5 separate regions of the Homo sapiens genome follow, and all the other regions are reported to be linked to region 5. Evidence: microRNA targets listed by miRTarBase, many of them from high-throughput screens and not tested one by one. Region 5 holds a microRNA gene; each other region holds the end of a gene's coding sequence.
Evidence for each region. The annotated mature microRNA hsa-miR-6880-5p reads UGGUGGAGGAAGAGGGCAGCUC and lies in region 5 at 1,824-1,845, opposite strand. An mRNA with a match to its seed (bases 2 to 7 or 8) in the 3' UTR can be bound and repressed. Matches are read on the target gene's strand: a 7mer-m8 pairs with bases 2 to 8, a 7mer-A1 pairs with bases 2 to 7 and ends in A, and an 8mer does both.

Region 1: miRTarBase lists FAM161B as a target of hsa-miR-6880-5p. Seed matches in the 3' UTR shown: 7mer-m8 at 2,530-2,536.
Region 2: the mRNA of ZNF786 is a reported target of hsa-miR-6880-5p. The part of its 3' UTR that is shown has no 7-base or 8-base seed match.
Region 3: the mRNA of ZNF250 is a reported target of hsa-miR-6880-5p. Seed matches in the 3' UTR shown: 7mer-m8 at 2,108-2,114.
Region 4: miRTarBase lists XPO4 as a target of hsa-miR-6880-5p. Seed matches in the 3' UTR shown: 7mer-A1 at 1,227-1,233.

What each region holds. Positions count from the first base shown.
Region 1 is chr14:73,931,479-73,934,688 of GRCh38, forward strand. FAM161B (FAM161 centrosomal protein B) reads right to left here. Exons shown (of 9, transcript NM_152445.3): 9 at 798-2,916. The coding sequence ends at 2,778. ZNF410 (zinc finger protein 410) reads left to right here. Exons shown (of 12, transcript NM_021188.3): 12 at 25-1,043. The coding sequence ends at 63. Among named protein-coding and RNA genes, the nearest start is that of FAM161B, 17 kb to the right of the region's middle.
Region 2 is chr7:149,067,739-149,070,738 of GRCh38, reverse strand. It overlaps ZNF786 (zinc finger protein 786), which reads left to right. Exons shown (of 4, transcript NM_152411.4): 4 at 1-1,098. The coding sequence ends at 316. Among named protein-coding and RNA genes, the nearest start is that of ZNF786, 21 kb to the left of the region's middle.
Region 3 is chr8:144,878,899-144,882,108 of GRCh38, reverse strand. It overlaps ZNF250 (zinc finger protein 250), which reads left to right. Exons shown (of 6, transcript NM_001109689.4): 6 at 1-3,210. The coding sequence ends at 594. Among named protein-coding and RNA genes, the nearest start is that of ZNF250, 21 kb to the left of the region's middle. RefSeq lists enhancers at 2,533-2,722, 2,923-3,072.
Region 4 is chr13:20,781,036-20,784,245 of GRCh38, forward strand. It overlaps XPO4 (exportin 4), which reads right to left. Exons shown (of 23, transcript NM_022459.5): 23 at 1-2,884. The coding sequence ends at 2,687. Among named protein-coding and RNA genes, the nearest start is that of EEF1AKMT1, 8.7 kb to the left of the region's middle.
Region 5 is chr12:124,335,393-124,338,392 of GRCh38, forward strand. MIR6880 (microRNA 6880) reads right to left here and starts at 1,850; the gene lies at 1,789-1,850. NCOR2 (nuclear receptor corepressor 2) reads right to left here. Exons shown (of 49, transcript NM_006312.6): 40 at 1,361-1,788; 41 at 91-240. RefSeq lists a silencer at 1,062-1,242.

The DNA.
Region 1 (3,210 bases), not on the chromosome of region 5:
AGATTTGCTTTCAATCTTTTACAGTTACTAAACCAAGGAGATTTAACTGAAAGACGGACATGAGCGTGGGTGCTGACTCCTGGAAGAGCAACTCTATCTGATCTCAAAATGCGTATACTGGGAACAGGATGCCTTAGCCCACAACAGAACCAGAATGAATCTTTGAAGGCACAAGACTCTGCTTTTGCCACTCTTCCTCTTTCCTGGTATAGAAGATGGATGTAGGAGAGCTTCTTTTCTAACTACCATCTGATCAGACAAGGAATGAAGCAATGACTGTGGGCTGGGAAACTGTACCTACCTCTCTTCCCACTGCAAATTTCTGGGATAGACCAAAAGTGAATTTGATTATGTGTTGGCTGAAGTTCTTCATTCTGACTGTTGAGGGGAGGTTTTCCTTTGAAGAGTTTTCATCCCAGACTCAGCTGTCTTTTCACATGGATGAAATAATTCCTGCTACCAACAACAGAGCTTCACCAGGAAGTTGAGTTTTCAAGATGCCTTGTTGCTTTGAAGAAGGGAGTGATGTCAATTCTCTTGTTACATTCTCCCTTTAGCAACCTGAGTAAGAGACTCTCTGCCACTGGGCTGCAAAAAAATAAATTACTTGAATCTCCCCTTGGCCCAGGCTGAGGTACTATCTTGTCCTATACACTTCTACTTGGTCACTTTGCTTTCTTCGTTAATGGAACATACAGTAGCATGTTAAGAGGGATTTCATGTTTTTGTTTTTTTAAAGTTAAAAATTACATGATGCAGAGATTCAGGTTTTCCTTTAAATAAACAAAACAGCCCAGTCAGTTCTTTGGCTCTTGTTTTATACAAAATTTGTTTTCTTAGAGATTAAGAATTTAATCTTTCCCTTTAAAATAGTGTATTGATTTACCCTTAGGATTCCATACCAGTAAAACTGAACCGAGGAGTCTTAGGAAACAACAAGAACATCTTCATTTCTTAAGCCCAGGTGATAGTTACTCTGTCACCACCAAAAAAGACGCATCTGAGAAAATGGCAATAAAAACAGATACTTCTGAATTTTTCCACAAAGATAGTTTTTTTAAAAAAGCTTGAGAAAGGTGCTTTAGTTAGAGCAGGCACTCTTGCTATCAGTCATCCTGTCTCCACAGCTACTGAGAAAATATCCACTCATCATCATTATGATTTGAGATGGGGTCTTGCTCTGTCACCCAGGCTGGAGTGCAGTAGTGTAATCATAGCTCAATGTAACCTTGAACTCCTACGCTCAAGGCATCCTCCCACCTCAGCCTCCTGAATAGCTAGGACTATAGGCATGTACCACCAGTCCAGCTAACTTTTTGTGGTTTTTTTGGTAGAAATGAGGTCTGTGTTGCCCAGGCTGGTCTTGAACGCCTGGCTTCAAGCGATCCTCCTGCCTTGGCCCCTCAAAGTGCTGGGATTACAAGCATGAACCACTGCACCGAGCCAGAATATCCAATTATTATTGGTGAGAAGAAAATTATTCCAAAGTTCACCTACTAGTAGAAAATCTTGGTTGTCTGGGAAATTTTAAGTTTACTTAAAATGAACCTCATGCTCACATAAACACACAGGCACATTCTAAACAGATAACGGGAGAGAATTGTTTTAAATTCTTAATTTGTTAATGACATGCATAATCACATAGTACATAGACTGTGTTCATGGCAATTACTTGTATTCTTAGAATGCCAGTTTTTGCTTCATGCAGCCATTTATATTAGAGCAGTGGTTCTCAGCCAGGCACATTTTTGCCCCCTGGGGATATGCAATATCTGGAGACATTTTTGGTTGTCACAGCTGGGGAGAGGGGTACTACTGGCATCTAGCAGGTAGTGGCCAGGGATGCTACTAAACATTCTACAATGTACAGGACAGTTCCCTTCCCCAACCCTCAACAAAGAATTAGGTGGCCCAAAATATTAATAGCACTGAGGATAAGAAATCCTGTACTAGAAGTTGTAAGTTTTTCATCCCCCATGGGCTAGATCTGATATGCAGATGTATTTTATTTTGCCCATACAATATTTCTAAGTAATTTTTAAATTAGTTGATAGCATACAAATTTCTGGCTTGATGAAAATGTAGTTGATGTAGTAACTCTGAGCCTATATTCCAGCAGGATTTGATACTTTCCAGTGTCTACTATCTCCTACTGTCTACACCCACTCCATGGACGCATTTATGTTTCTGCACTAGCCCCTTATAGGCATTTGGGCCTGTGCTCTCTTTTCTGTACCTAATTCTCTAAGTGTGAGGCACAAAGCAGGAACCCTTAACTTTAGGCTACCATCCCTCCACCTGAGCCTCCCCACTTTGATTTCCTTGAACTATTCTCTGTTATCTGCTGCTCTTTTTTTTTCTCAGACAGAGTTTTGCTCTGCTGCCCAGGCTGGAGTGCTGTGGAGTGATCTCAGCTCATTACAACCTCTGCCTCTTGGGTTCAAGTGATTCTCCTGCCTCAGCTTCCCAAGTAGCTAGGATTACAGGCACGTGTCATCACGCCCAGCTAATTTTTGTATTTTTAGTAGAGGTGGAGTTTTGCCGTGTTGGCTGGACTGGTCTCAAACTCCTGACCTCAGATGATCTGCCTGCCTCAGCCTCCCAAAGTGTTGGGATTACAGGCGTGAGCCACTGCGCCTGGCCTGTTAATCTGCTACTCTTCATTTGTCCATCCTCTAACAGTAGCCATGACTCAAAACCCAAGTTTTCCCTGCCTTGACTCAAACCCAAGTTAGCTGCTTAATATTTTTCAAAAGCAGTAATTTTAAGTGTAGTGATTAAGCAAGTGATACGAGATTTTCTGGTGACTGATGAGACAGCTCCTCCAGTACTTTCCTGGGGCTTGCAGGCTGTTCTAGAGATCCTTCTAAACCCTGCTCTGGATCTCTGATGCTGAGTTTTGTAGTTTCTTGGAACCTGCAGAATAAATTAAAACATGAAAAACAAAAAAAATTTTTTTTTCAGACAGGGTCTCACTCTCACCCAGGCTGGAGTGCAGTGGCATGATCTCAGCTCACTGCAGCCTGGACAGCCCAGCTGAAGCAACCCTCCCACCTCAAGCAATCCTCCCACCTTAGCTTCCCAAGTAGCTGGGATTATAGGCACGTGCCACTGCACCCAGCTAATTTTTTTTTTTTTTTTAACTTTTTGTAGAGACAGGGTTTTGCCATGTTGCCCAGGCTGGTCTCAAACTCCTGGGCTCAAGCGATC
Region 2 (3,000 bases), not on the chromosome of region 5:
TCCCAAGTGTGACAAGAGTTTCCGCCTGAAGGCGCAGCTGCTCAGCCATCAGGGCCTGCACACAGGGGAGAGGCCTTTTCACTGCCCTGAGTGTGACAAGAACTTCCGGGAAAGGGGACACATGCTGAGGCACCAGCGCATCCACAGGCCCGAGAGGCCCTTTGCCTGTGGCGATTGTGGGAAGGGCTTCATTTACAAGTCTAAGCTTGCGGAGCACATCAGAGTACACACAAAATCCTGTCCTGCTCCAAATGAACTGGACATTAAGAAAAGGCTCAGCCAACTGTTTGCAATGATAGAGGCCGATTGGAGTTGAGGCAGAGTGGGACATCCAAAGCGTTGAGCAGGATTGGTATTGCCCAGGAATCCACAGCAACAGTAGCCAGACCCGCTGGTAGACGGGTTTTAGGAGCAGGTATCCTTCTTTGAGCAAGAGTGTCATGCAAGTTAGGAATATGAAGAACCACAAAGGATTTTCTCTTCAGAAGCATCACCAATTATATTTCTTTCTTTTTTTTTTTTTTTTCCAAGATGGAGTTTTGCTCTGTCACCCAGGCTGGAGTGCAGTGGCGTGATCCCAGCTATATTGGAAAAGACAGCATTATAAAACAAGGACATAATTTTATGAAAAAGGAGGCATCTGCAAACGAAAACAATTTCTACGAGGTTATATGTGATTGTTAACATTTTTAAGAAAAGGTGCACACAGAAATCCAGATAAGATGTGATTACCTTTGTGCATTTGTATAAAAATATATGTGTGTAATTATAAGGAAGTTCTGACATTTTAAAAAGTAATTGTTATAAAAGTAAATTTAGGCCAGGCACAGTGGTTCATGCCTGTAATCCCAGCACTTGGGAGGCCGTGGCAGGAGGATCACGAGCCAAGGAGTTTGAGACCAGCTTGGGCAACATGGCAAAACCCTGTCTCTACTAAAAATACAAAAATTAGCCAGGCATGGTGGTACACACCAGTAGTCCCAGCTACTCCTGAAGCTGAGGTGGGAGGATCGCCTGAGCCCAGGGAGGTCAAGGCTGCAGTGAGCAATGATGGTGCCACTGCACTCCAGTATGGATGACATAGTATGACACTGTCTCAAAAAAAAAAAAAAAAAAATTTGGGCCAGGGGTGGTGGCTCACGCCTGTAATCCCAGCACTTTGGGAGGCTGAGGCGGGTGGATCACAAGGTCAGGAGATCGAGACCATCCTGGCAAACACAGTGAAACCCTGTCTCTACTAAAAATACAAAAAAAAAAAAAAAATTAGCCGGGTGTGGTGGCAGGCACCTGTAGTCCCAGGAGGCTGAGGCAGGAGAATGGTGTGAGCCCAGGAGGCGGAGCTTGCAGTGAGCCAAGATCAAGCCACTGCACTCCAGCCTGGGTGACAGAGCGAGACTCCGTCTCAAAAAAAAAAAAAAAACAAATTTAGTATCTCCCAAAGGAAGCTTGGCAAGTCCTTTTCATTCTCTTTAGAATTTATAGAATATAGCCTGGCGTGGTGGCTCATACCTATAATCCCATTACTTTGGGAGGTCAAGGCAGGAGGATCACTTGAGGTCAGGAGTTCAAGACCAGACTGGCCAACATGGTGAAACACCATCTCTACCAAAAAGTACAAAAATTAGCCGGGCATGGTGGCATGCACCTGTAGTCTTGGCTACGCCGGAGGCTGAGGCAGGAGAATCGCTTGAACCCCAGAGGTGGAGGTTGCATTGAGCTGGGATTGCACCACTGCATTCCAACTTGGGAGACAGAGCAAGACTCCATCTCAAAAAAATTATAGAATATATAATTAATATATAAAGATACAGAATAATATATAATTATAAATTCCTTTTTTTTTTTCTTTGAGATGGAGTCTTGCTCTGTCGCCCAGGCTGGGGTGCAGTGGCATGATCTCGGCTCACCGCAAGCTCCACCTTCCGGGTTCATGCCATTCTCCTGCCTCAGGCTCCCAAGTAGCTGGGACCACAGGCGCCCGCCACCACGCCCAGCTAATTTTTTGTATTTTTAGTAGAGACAGAGTTTCACCGTGTTAGCCAGGATGGTCTCGATCTCTTGACCTCGTGATCCGCCCGCCTCAGCCTCCCAAAGTGCTGGGATTACAGGCATGAGCCACGGTGCCGGCCTTTCTTTTCTTTTTTTTTTTTTTTTTGGAGTCTCTGTCAGCCAGCCTGGAGTACAGTGCCATGATCTTAGCTCGCTGTATCCTCCACCTCCCAAGCTCAAGTGATCCTTCTTTCTCAACCTCCTGAGTAGCTGGGACTAAAGGCGCACGCCATCACGTGCCACCATGCCTATTTTTGTATTTTTAGTAGAGACTAAAAATACAAAAAATATAAAATGTGGGCCAGGCTGGTCTTGAACTCCTGACCTCAGGTGATCTACCCACCTCAGCCTCCCAAAGTGCTGGGATTATAGGTGTGAGCCACCGTGCCCGGCCTATACTTCGCCATTTGTCTCTTAACACGGGTGCCCAAGAAGCTGCTGCTTGGGGGGCTGTATTCAATTAACACTTTTAATGTTAACAGGTGTGGACCATCAAGAGATTGTCTCTCCCTGGCTGCCGAATTCTCATTCTTAGAGAGGCAATTTGTTAATTGCTGAACCATCACCTGACATTTCTAGTGGGTCGGGAGAGAGCCCTCTGCTGCCCTGTTGATGCCTAACTACCTGTAACAATCTGATTATTGTAAGTTTTCCTGTATCCAGTATCACCTCCAATATTTATCAAGGAGTTGTGTGAAATACCACCTCACAACCAGATGAAGAATTTTATCACCACCTCCTCCAATTCCTCATGAGGGAGAAGTAGGAATTGCTCTGAGCCTAAGGTAGAAACCGTTCCTGAAATGTTGAAAACCGTCATTGTGAGTAGGTGAGTGGAGTGGTGGAGTAGTGAATCACCTGTACAATGGCACTGTCAAAAGACAAAATTACAACACATTTAGTTTAAAAATCTTAATTGGCTTATTTGGTATTCTAGAATTGAGCAACACT
Region 3 (3,210 bases), not on the chromosome of region 5:
GAGAAGCCCTACACGTGCAGCGAGTGTGGGAAGGCCTTCAGCGACCGCTCAGTCCTCATTCAGCACCACAACGTGCACACCGGGGAGAAGCCCTATGAGTGCAGTGAGTGTGGGAAGACCTTCAGCCACCGCTCCACACTGATGAATCACGAGCGGATCCACACCGAGGAAAAGCCCTATGCATGCTACGAATGTGGGAAGGCCTTCGTTCAGCACTCACACCTGATCCAGCACCAGAGAGTCCACACTGGGGAGAAGCCCTATGTGTGTGGTGAATGTGGGCACGCCTTCAGTGCACGCCGGTCTCTGATCCAGCATGAGAGAATCCACACAGGTGAAAAGCCCTTCCAGTGCACAGAATGTGGCAAAGCCTTCAGCCTGAAAGCAACTCTGATTGTGCACCTGAGGACCCACACGGGCGAGAAGCCATATGAGTGCAATAGCTGCGGGAAGGCCTTCAGCCAGTACTCAGTGCTCATCCAGCACCAGCGGATCCACACAGGCGAGAAGCCCTATGAGTGCGGGGAGTGTGGGCGTGCCTTCAACCAGCATGGCCACCTAATCCAGCACCAGAAAGTGCACAGAAAGTTGTGACCCATGGCTGACACAAGAATCCATTCTCACAGAAACTGCATGTGGAACCACAAGCAGCCTTCAGCCCAAGAGAAGTCTCTGTTAACTCTATAGGAAGCTTTTCTTTGGCGATTCAGTGTCACAAAATAACTCCAGAAAGAAGCACTTAGCGTGCTGTTCCTGTGGAAAAACTTCAGAGACTACCTGTTTTATTTTCCTCAACATCTTGAAGTTATGTTGGAGAGTAATCATACAATTGTAGAGAATTTTGGTAAAAAACAGCCATAATTCTTTAACATTAGTTTATTTGAACTAAGGGAATTTAAGGCATAAGAACCATTATCCCAATAAAATCTTACATTCCAAATAAAGTTCTTTTTCTAAGAACATTACATGCCCTTCCTAAATATCAATTAACCATACTAATTATTGCACTTAAAATTTGAAAGTCGGACTATTTTCAGTATTCTCTTAAAAGACTAAAGTATTGTATGGATAAAGTGATATAAAAAGATATTTTCATCAAGCATCATGTAAAATGGTTGGAAATCCTAAGTGTGTGGATTTCCATCCTAAGTGTGTGGAGTCCTGTTTTGTATGAAACAAGGAAAAAGCTTATATATTAGTGAGAAATTACATAAATTTAAAAAACTTTTTGTATGTGTGTGTGGAGATAGTCTTGCTCTGTTGCCCAAGCTGCAGTGCAGTGGCATGATCTTGGCTCACTGCAGTCTCCGCCCCCACCCCAGGTTCAAGCTTTTCTTGTGCCTCAGTCTCCCAAGTAACTAGGATTATAGATATGCGCCACCACACCTGGCTAATTTTTGTATTTTTAGTAGAGACGGAGTTTCACCGTGTTGGCCAGGCTGGTCTCGAACTCCTGGCCTCAAGTGATCCTCCCACCTTTGCTTCCGAAAGTGTTGGGATTACAGGCGTGAGGCACCATGCCTGGCCTAGAAAACCCTTTATCTGGAGCTTTTAACTTTATTCAAGATCAGAAAGGTTATGCTAACTTTTTAGTAAAAATTCAACTCAAAAATGGGTATTTTCCTCAAAACTTGCCCTTATGACCTGCAGATCCTGTGCCCCAGAAACCGTGAGATGTCTCAATTCCCATGCAGGCAAAGGAGGGGAGCTTCACACTCAGCAGACCTCATAGCTGTTACACCAAGTGGGTACCTCTTTACATCTTATGGTATTTCCCCCAAAACAATGCTGAAAATACTGTTCTTTGGTAGATATATTTAAAACATACATTTCTCAAATTCAGATAGCTCTTTTTTACTATCTCTAGTATTTCTATTCCTATATTTGAAGGGGTTTTTTTTTTCATTTTTTTACTCCTGGTTCAAGAGTCCAGTATCCATTGCCATATTACTATGATGAAGATGAATCTAGTTTATTCATAATTAAAAATTTGTATTCAGAATTATTTGTTCTGTTTTAAGCATACTTTTTTTTTTTTTTTTGAGACAAAGTCTTGCTCTTGTTCCCCAGGCTGAAGTGCAATGGCACAATCTCAGCTCACTGCAATCTCCACCTCCCAGGTTCAAGCAATTCTCCTGCCTCTGCCTCCCAAGTAGCTGGAATTACAGGCACCTGCTACCACGCCCGACTAATTTTCGTATTTTTAGTAGAGATGAGGTTTCACCATGTTGGCCAGGCTGGTCTCAAACTCCTGACCTCAGGTGATCCGCCCGCCTCGGCCTCCCAAAGTGCTGGGATTACAGGCGTGTGCCACCGCACCCGGCCAAGGATACAGTTCTTGAAACCGAATCAGAACCATTTCTAGTAGCAGCCAGCTGCAAACGAAACAAATGTATGAGGTTCAAGCCACTTGAAATTCTCAACATGTTAAGTGCCTGAGATAGAGAAGGGCTGTCTTCACCCCAGGCCCCCGCCCCCAACATCTGTCAGTTTGGTGGGGAGGAAATAGTCACCAGGATATTGATCCTTTTTGTTTGTTTTAAAGACGGTCTTGCTCTGTCACCAGGTTGGAGTGCAGTGGTGCCATCATGGCTCACCGCTGCCTCAAACTCCTGGGCTGAAGCAGTCCTCCCACCTCACCTTCCCAAAAGGTTAGGATTACAGGCATGAGCTGCTGTGCCCATCCAGGCATTGATCCTTAAGTCCACAGCAAAACACCACGATGTAGACAAAAGCTTGTTCCCCCTTCTATGTACAGACACTGACAACAGTGAATTATTAACTCCAGAGAGGAACTGGTAACTGATTGGTTAACTTGAGAAAGGAGCTGACATCACTGGTGTTTTACTTCAGAGCAACTGAAACCACTGAAGTGAAATTCCAGAGGAACTAATATTACTGAGGTGTTACTTCAGAGGGACTGAGATCACTGAAGTGAAACCTCAGATAGCTCAGATAACCAAGGTGTTAACCTTAGAGGTGTTGCCATTCTGTGAGGTGTTGTTTCAGATAGATAAAATAACTAAGGTGTTAGTTCAGAGAAGACAAGAGCTTAACTGTTTCTTTGGAGAAGAGCTGAGATCACTGAGGCGTCACTTCAGAAAGAAAGTGAGACAATTTTTGTTACTTCAGAGGATCTGAGTACACTGAGGTGTTTCATCAGAGAGGAGGTGAGATCACTGGGTGTTACTTCTGAAAGGAATTGACATC
Region 4 (3,210 bases), not on the chromosome of region 5:
TATATGAACAACAGAAATTTTATAAAACAAAAATCTAAAAATGAAATACTTGACAGTGTCCCTTTGACATATATAAAAGAGGGCACAAATAATGTTTTTGTTTTAAAAAATATTTTAACAACAGTTTTAATAGAAAAAAAATCAACTGACTTGAATTAAGCCAGTGTTCTTGACACCCACTGGGCCAAGAGCATTAAAACAAAACAAGACCGGAGAAGTTAATAAACACAGCTAAAGACAAAATTGGACAAAATAAAACAAAAGAAAACACAAAGTGAATAAGCATCCAATCAGGCAAACATGGACACAACCACCCTGAAAAGGTCTAGCCGTTGCAACTCAGTGGCATCCCCATCACCTAAAAAATGGTAGTGGCTTCTCCCCACCCCAGTGAGCTAATATTCAACATTCTGCTGATCTTATAAGTATTATTTGGTCCAATCTGAAGAAGGTCTTTTTAAACTAAAACTAGTCTAATGAAATTACACCTCAGGAATATGGAGGTGAAATTTTCTATTTTTAGTATTGTAATAGGATCTGGGCAAATTTTGCAAATATGTTGCCATCTGGATAAAAGTTATTAAATATAGATGCCTTTTTACTTACCAAGGCATTCCTTTCCCACTCCTCTTTAGTTTTAATAACTTGATTATAGTTTTGTCATGGCGCGTGGACCTGTCCAGTCAATTGTGTGTTTCAGTGCCCTTTGGTAAAGAGACTGTACTTAGCACACACACAGATACACATAATTCACAACAGCTGAGAAAGCTTGAGGGATCTGGGAAACACAAAACACCAAGAACAATGCAAAACAAATAGATTACTGCTGCATATCACTTCAAGTTTTTTAAGGGGAAAAAAAAAACACCTAAAAATAAATGCATCAAAGTATTTTTTAAAATACAGAAACGTGTACTTCTGGATGACTGATATTAATTTCCTTCCTAGCAGTCTTTTCAAGATGTTTTTGCTTCCCCTTAATTGTGACTCAAAGCTAATCAAATTGAGAGAAATGTAAGTTATGGCCCAAGGCCCTGCATTCACATCTACCTAACATCACATGCACAGGTTGGATGTAATTCAGATGCTCCAGTTTTGTTAACTGTTAATAACACAGAATTATACAAAGTTTTGCACAGCATCACATGTAATGACACATATGCTATATGCAATCAGGTAGAAAAACCGTATTTGCAGAATGGTTTAATAGATAGGTGTCAGGAACATGGTGGAAGCAGAGTTTCATGAGTGCACCTGTGCCAGAGTCCTCTACCTGTCACTGTGCTGTGAAAGTACTGCAATGAGTGGAGTTTCATATGCCTGCTGTGTATAAATTAGCTTTCATTTCCACATTGTAAGCTGGCACACTGAATTAGGGGAGCCTGGCAGCTGTATAAAAATCCTGATTAAGAGATCAAACTAGAGGATCTAAAGTGAATTTTTAATCTCTGAAATTAAATTCACTGGCTCCCATGTCTGGATAAGAATTATTGCCCCTAATGCCCCAACGTGCAATAGTCTGTGTGAATCAGTGATTCACATCCTTTAAAATAATTATTGCTTAAGCAAGCCATTTAGAGTAGATATGGGCTATGTGGCTGGATAGAAACACACTCAAAAAGTTAGACTAGACGGAAACAAGCCTTTCATTTCACTGATAAACCTACATAAATACACGATCGAAAGGGGCAACAGGTTCATAGCAGCTAACACCCTAAACCAACTCTGAAGCATCAAGACGTGGTTTCTTACTAAAACAAATCAGCTGTTTTTGTATTTTCCTCTTAAAATTAAGGCAATGAAATGGCTACAGTTCCTAAGGTTATTTTTACGGAACAAAAATATACATGTATTTTCCTCCTCAAGTTCAGGCATCAGAGTATGATTAGTGACTTGTATTACACAAAACCTGCAGCACTGGGTTGATGTGAGAGAGAGAGAGAAAAGAAAGAGAGAGACAGAAAGCAAGAAAAGCAAGAAAGCAAGCAAGCAAGAAAGCAAGCTAAGAAAAAGCCAACAAACCCCTGGTGATGTTTCCCCTTCCTGCTGAATTATAAAACCCAATCATCAAAGGGAGGAAAAGCTAGAAAGCACAAAACCTCTTAAGAGTTTTCAATGTCTCTTTCATTGATTCAAAACTTTTGGGGTGACGAAAGGGAGAAGCTTATTAACATGAAGACTCCTGGGCCCAACAACCAGACATTCTGACTCTGAAGGTCTACAGTTGGGCCTAAGAATCTGCCTTTTCACCAGCTCCTCAAGTGATGCAGGCGATCTATGGAGATTTTGAGAAACACTGCCTAGCATATATCCATTTCATATTTAATGACAAAAATTCTAAACTTTGGCTAGCCACCTATGTTAAAAGGAAAAAAGGCACTGCATATGTATTTCGTGGTGCCCATATCTGTTTGCACATATATGGAATTTCATTTTGAAAATTTTAAATCACCATTCAGAATCTAAAAGACATATATATGACAGATTGTGGCTAACACTTAACAGCAGAAGCTGATGCCAAGTTGACCTCTCCTGTTTCACTGTATTACATACATATCAAAGTTTCAGGCTCTCCAAAATCCAAAATGGCCAAATGAACTGAGGAATAGGACAAGACTCAAGTCAACTTTCAGCAATTCAGTGCACTTTGCAGAAAGGATCTAAATTAAGCATAAAGTTCTGTTGTTTATTTTACACAAAGGAGACCACCAACATTTGCCATAAATTCTTCTAAACTCTTTAAGAAGGCCATCTTCTGCTTCCGATCCAGCGTAGGAGGAGTGCTGCTTGCAGTGAGCTTGTTGAAGGCATCTGCTAATCTCTGGTAAATAACTGGGTCTTGCTGACTTGATAGTAATGTTTCGACCAGTTCAGAATATTCAGCCTATTGAAGAGATAAAGTATACACAAGTATCCTCCTTAGAATATCATACAAGTAGATCTTATCAGTTACTGGACTGTGGGGTTCTAAAAGGCAGGGACACATTTTTAAGAGTTAACATTTAGAATAATTCAGCATTTAAGTACTACTGTTTGAAAACCTTTTACATGGATTAATTCATCTATCATTTACAACAATGCTTCGAGACAGGTACTGTTTCTATTCCCATTCCAGAGGTGAAGGTTTCGACACTCAGTGAGGTGAAGTGATATGGCCCAGATCAAGCAAGAGTCCACCAATCTAGCCCCAAGACCCATGTGATAATCAAC
Region 5 (3,000 bases):
AGGCACCTCTGTTTTCCTATCTGCATGATGGGGCCTTGAGGGTCCTCACTGTGCAGGGCTTCGGGGGCCTGGGTACTGGGTGGGGCGTACCTGGCTGCTTGGGCCGCAGCTCCCCCTCCAGGTGGCTCTTGTCGAGCTCTTCCAGGTGCTTGGGGAGCCCCTTGTCGTGGGTCAGACTGGGTGAGCTCACAGGGCTGACGGGCTCCACCCCTTCGGGGCTGTAGCTGCTGCCGTGGTAACCTAGGGCAGGCGGGGGGTGCAGAGTCAGGCACCGGGCCCAGGGTTTCGGAGCCCGAGGGGCAGGGCTGCCCTCCCAGCTGGCTGGGACCCCGGGGGGGTCAAGGGGAACCCAAGCTAGGGGTAGGGTTTGGGCTCCCAAAGACAGTAAGGCAGAGAGGGGTGTTGGGGAGAGACAGGGAGGCCAAGGGAGAGGTGGAGAGAGATGCAGAGCCCGGGACAGAGACAGACAGAGAGGGAGACACAGAGAGAGATTAGGCAAGAAGGGACAGAGATGGGTTCAGGTGGTGGAGGCCGGGCGAGGCCAGCGTGAGATGGGGGCAGCATGGGTCTCTGGGGAAGGAGTGTGTGGGGCGGAGTGAGAAGTGGGGGTGTGGCTGGGAGTGACCCTGGGTCCCCGGGGCCCCGCCTGGGCTATAGCCTCGGCCATCCCAGTCCAACAGAGAGGAGCCATGAACTAGGGCCAAGGCAGGGGTCCAGAGGCAGAGGGCTCCCCTTTTTCTGGGGTACAGGGGCTGGGGACAGGGCAAGATGCAAGAGCCAGACCCAGCTCCTCCTCGACAGCGCAGGTCCCTGCCCCGCCTCAGCTTCTCCTTGCACCGCCTGCCTCCACTTCCCCCAGTCCGACAGCATCCAGGCAGCCGGCAGGTGGGGGCGTAGGCCCGAGCCCTCCCGCAGCCCCATCCCTGCTCCCTGGACACAGGCGCAAAGAGGGAGATGGGGGCGCAGTCGAAGTCAGAATCACAGATCCATTCATTAAAGAAAAAAAAGCAAAAATCCAAAAAAAAAAAACCATGGTAAAATGATGTGCAAATGATGAGCGCCCCCAAACCAGAGGGGCAGGCGCGGCCGGAGTAGTCGTCAGCGCGTGCAAACCGGCGAGGACGGATGGGCTTCAAAACAAAATACCAAAACCAACAACAAAAAAAACGGGGGCCAAAGTAAAAAGCAGAGATCTGAAAATATCTTTGGACCACGAGACGGGGTGGGTGCGGGCCGGAAGTCTTACCATCGCGAGGGGAGCCGTTGGCCAGCGCACCTCCTTCTCGCGCCCCTTTATCGTGAGCAATTTGACGCATGATAATCGCGTCTATGAAGGTGGCCGCTGTCAGGGTGGTCTTACCCAGAGAACGGAGTTCCAGTTCCTGGATGGAAAAGGGTTTACTTTGAGTCTTTTCCCGGTGCGGGTCCGAGGCCGAGGCAGGTGGCGCCGGCGGGTCCGGGCTGGCGTGGTGAGGTGCGAGGTTCTTCGCAGGGGTGCGGGCGATGGTGGCGTGGCCAGAGACAGGAGGCACTAGGGGCCGGGGCTCCGAGCCCTTGCTGGGGGAGGAGGCGGGCTCCAGCCCGGAGCGGGCTGGGGGCTTGGCGAGGAAGGCATGGCCGGTGTCTGCTCGGGGCCGCTCTGGCCGGGCGACCCGGGGGGCCTCCTTGGGCAGCAAGACGGGCTCCATGAGGGTAGGGTAGACCCCATCGAGGGTGCCGCCCAGTGGGCAGTGGGTGGCAGGTGGGAATGTGGCAGCCGGGCGAACGGGTGAGGAGGTGGAGGTGGACCTGGGGGAGGAGAGAAGGCGGTCAGGCAGTCATGGGAGCTGCCCTCTTCCTCCACCACCCTCGATGAGTCCCCATTGCCCTGGGATAAATCCACATCCCCTGCTGCTCCCAGAGTGAAACTGCCCTCCTGACTGTAACCTGCCAGACTCTGTGCGTCATGGTTTGACCCATCCCACTCATTCGTTCATTCATTCCTTGCATCATTCCAAAACTTCTGATTAAGCAGCTACTAGGTGCCAGGCACTGTTCTAGACACTGTGAATACAGCGGTCATAAAACGGATGCAAGCATCTTACCATCTAATTCAGAAAACAGACTACGATCACATTAACAGATATCCCAAGCTCTACAGAGCCTGGTAACTGTGTGGAGGTAGTCAATGAGGTACCAGGAGAGAACGGCAAGGAAGCTGAGGCAGGGCTAGGAGGTCTTCAGGGAGGGGGCACATGAGGGAGCTGGGCCTGCTCAGGATACCCGAAGAGCTAAAAAAGCCACGTGAGGAGTGAGAGAGCAAGGGGAAGGATGCCAGGGGGCGGCCAGGGTGGGCGTTGAGAACAGAGAAAGCTGCTGTTCCCAGCTCTGTGAGTGAGAAGCTGGGGCACAGCTGCCCCTGCACAGGGCTGGGGCTGGAACAGGAGCCGGCTGCTCCACCCACGTGGCCTTCCCGGAGCCCTGCGTTTCCATGGGGGCACCCCCATCTCTCGCTAACTCTACCTCCCAGAGCCTCATTCATGAGCGGGCAGTGGGCAGGCACTCGTTTTCTCCATTATATTTTTGAATCGGCTGTCACGGGCATATCCCACAGAGCCTGTGTGCGGAACCCTGCTCCCCACAGCCAGGGATTAGTGCTTCATGCACCTGCTGGGTCTGAGTCAGGGGTGACAAAGTCGCCACTGCTTTTGGGAAACGATGCCATTTTTCATAATTGAAATAATGATTAGGGGAGGTATGACTTCAGGCATCCAAGCGGCAAGTTGGGGCACAAGTACTTTTTTGAATGAAAATTCATTTTGGAGGAGTAAGTTGCCTCTAAATAGGTCCTGGAGGCTGAGTGCGGTGGCGCACGCCTGTAATCCCGGCACTTTGGGAGGCTGAGGCAGGCAGATCACTTGAGGTCAGAAGTTTGAGACCAGCCTGGCCAACGTGGTGAAACCGCATTTCTACTAAAAATATAAAAATTAGCCGGGTGTGGTTGCACGTGCCTGTAACTGC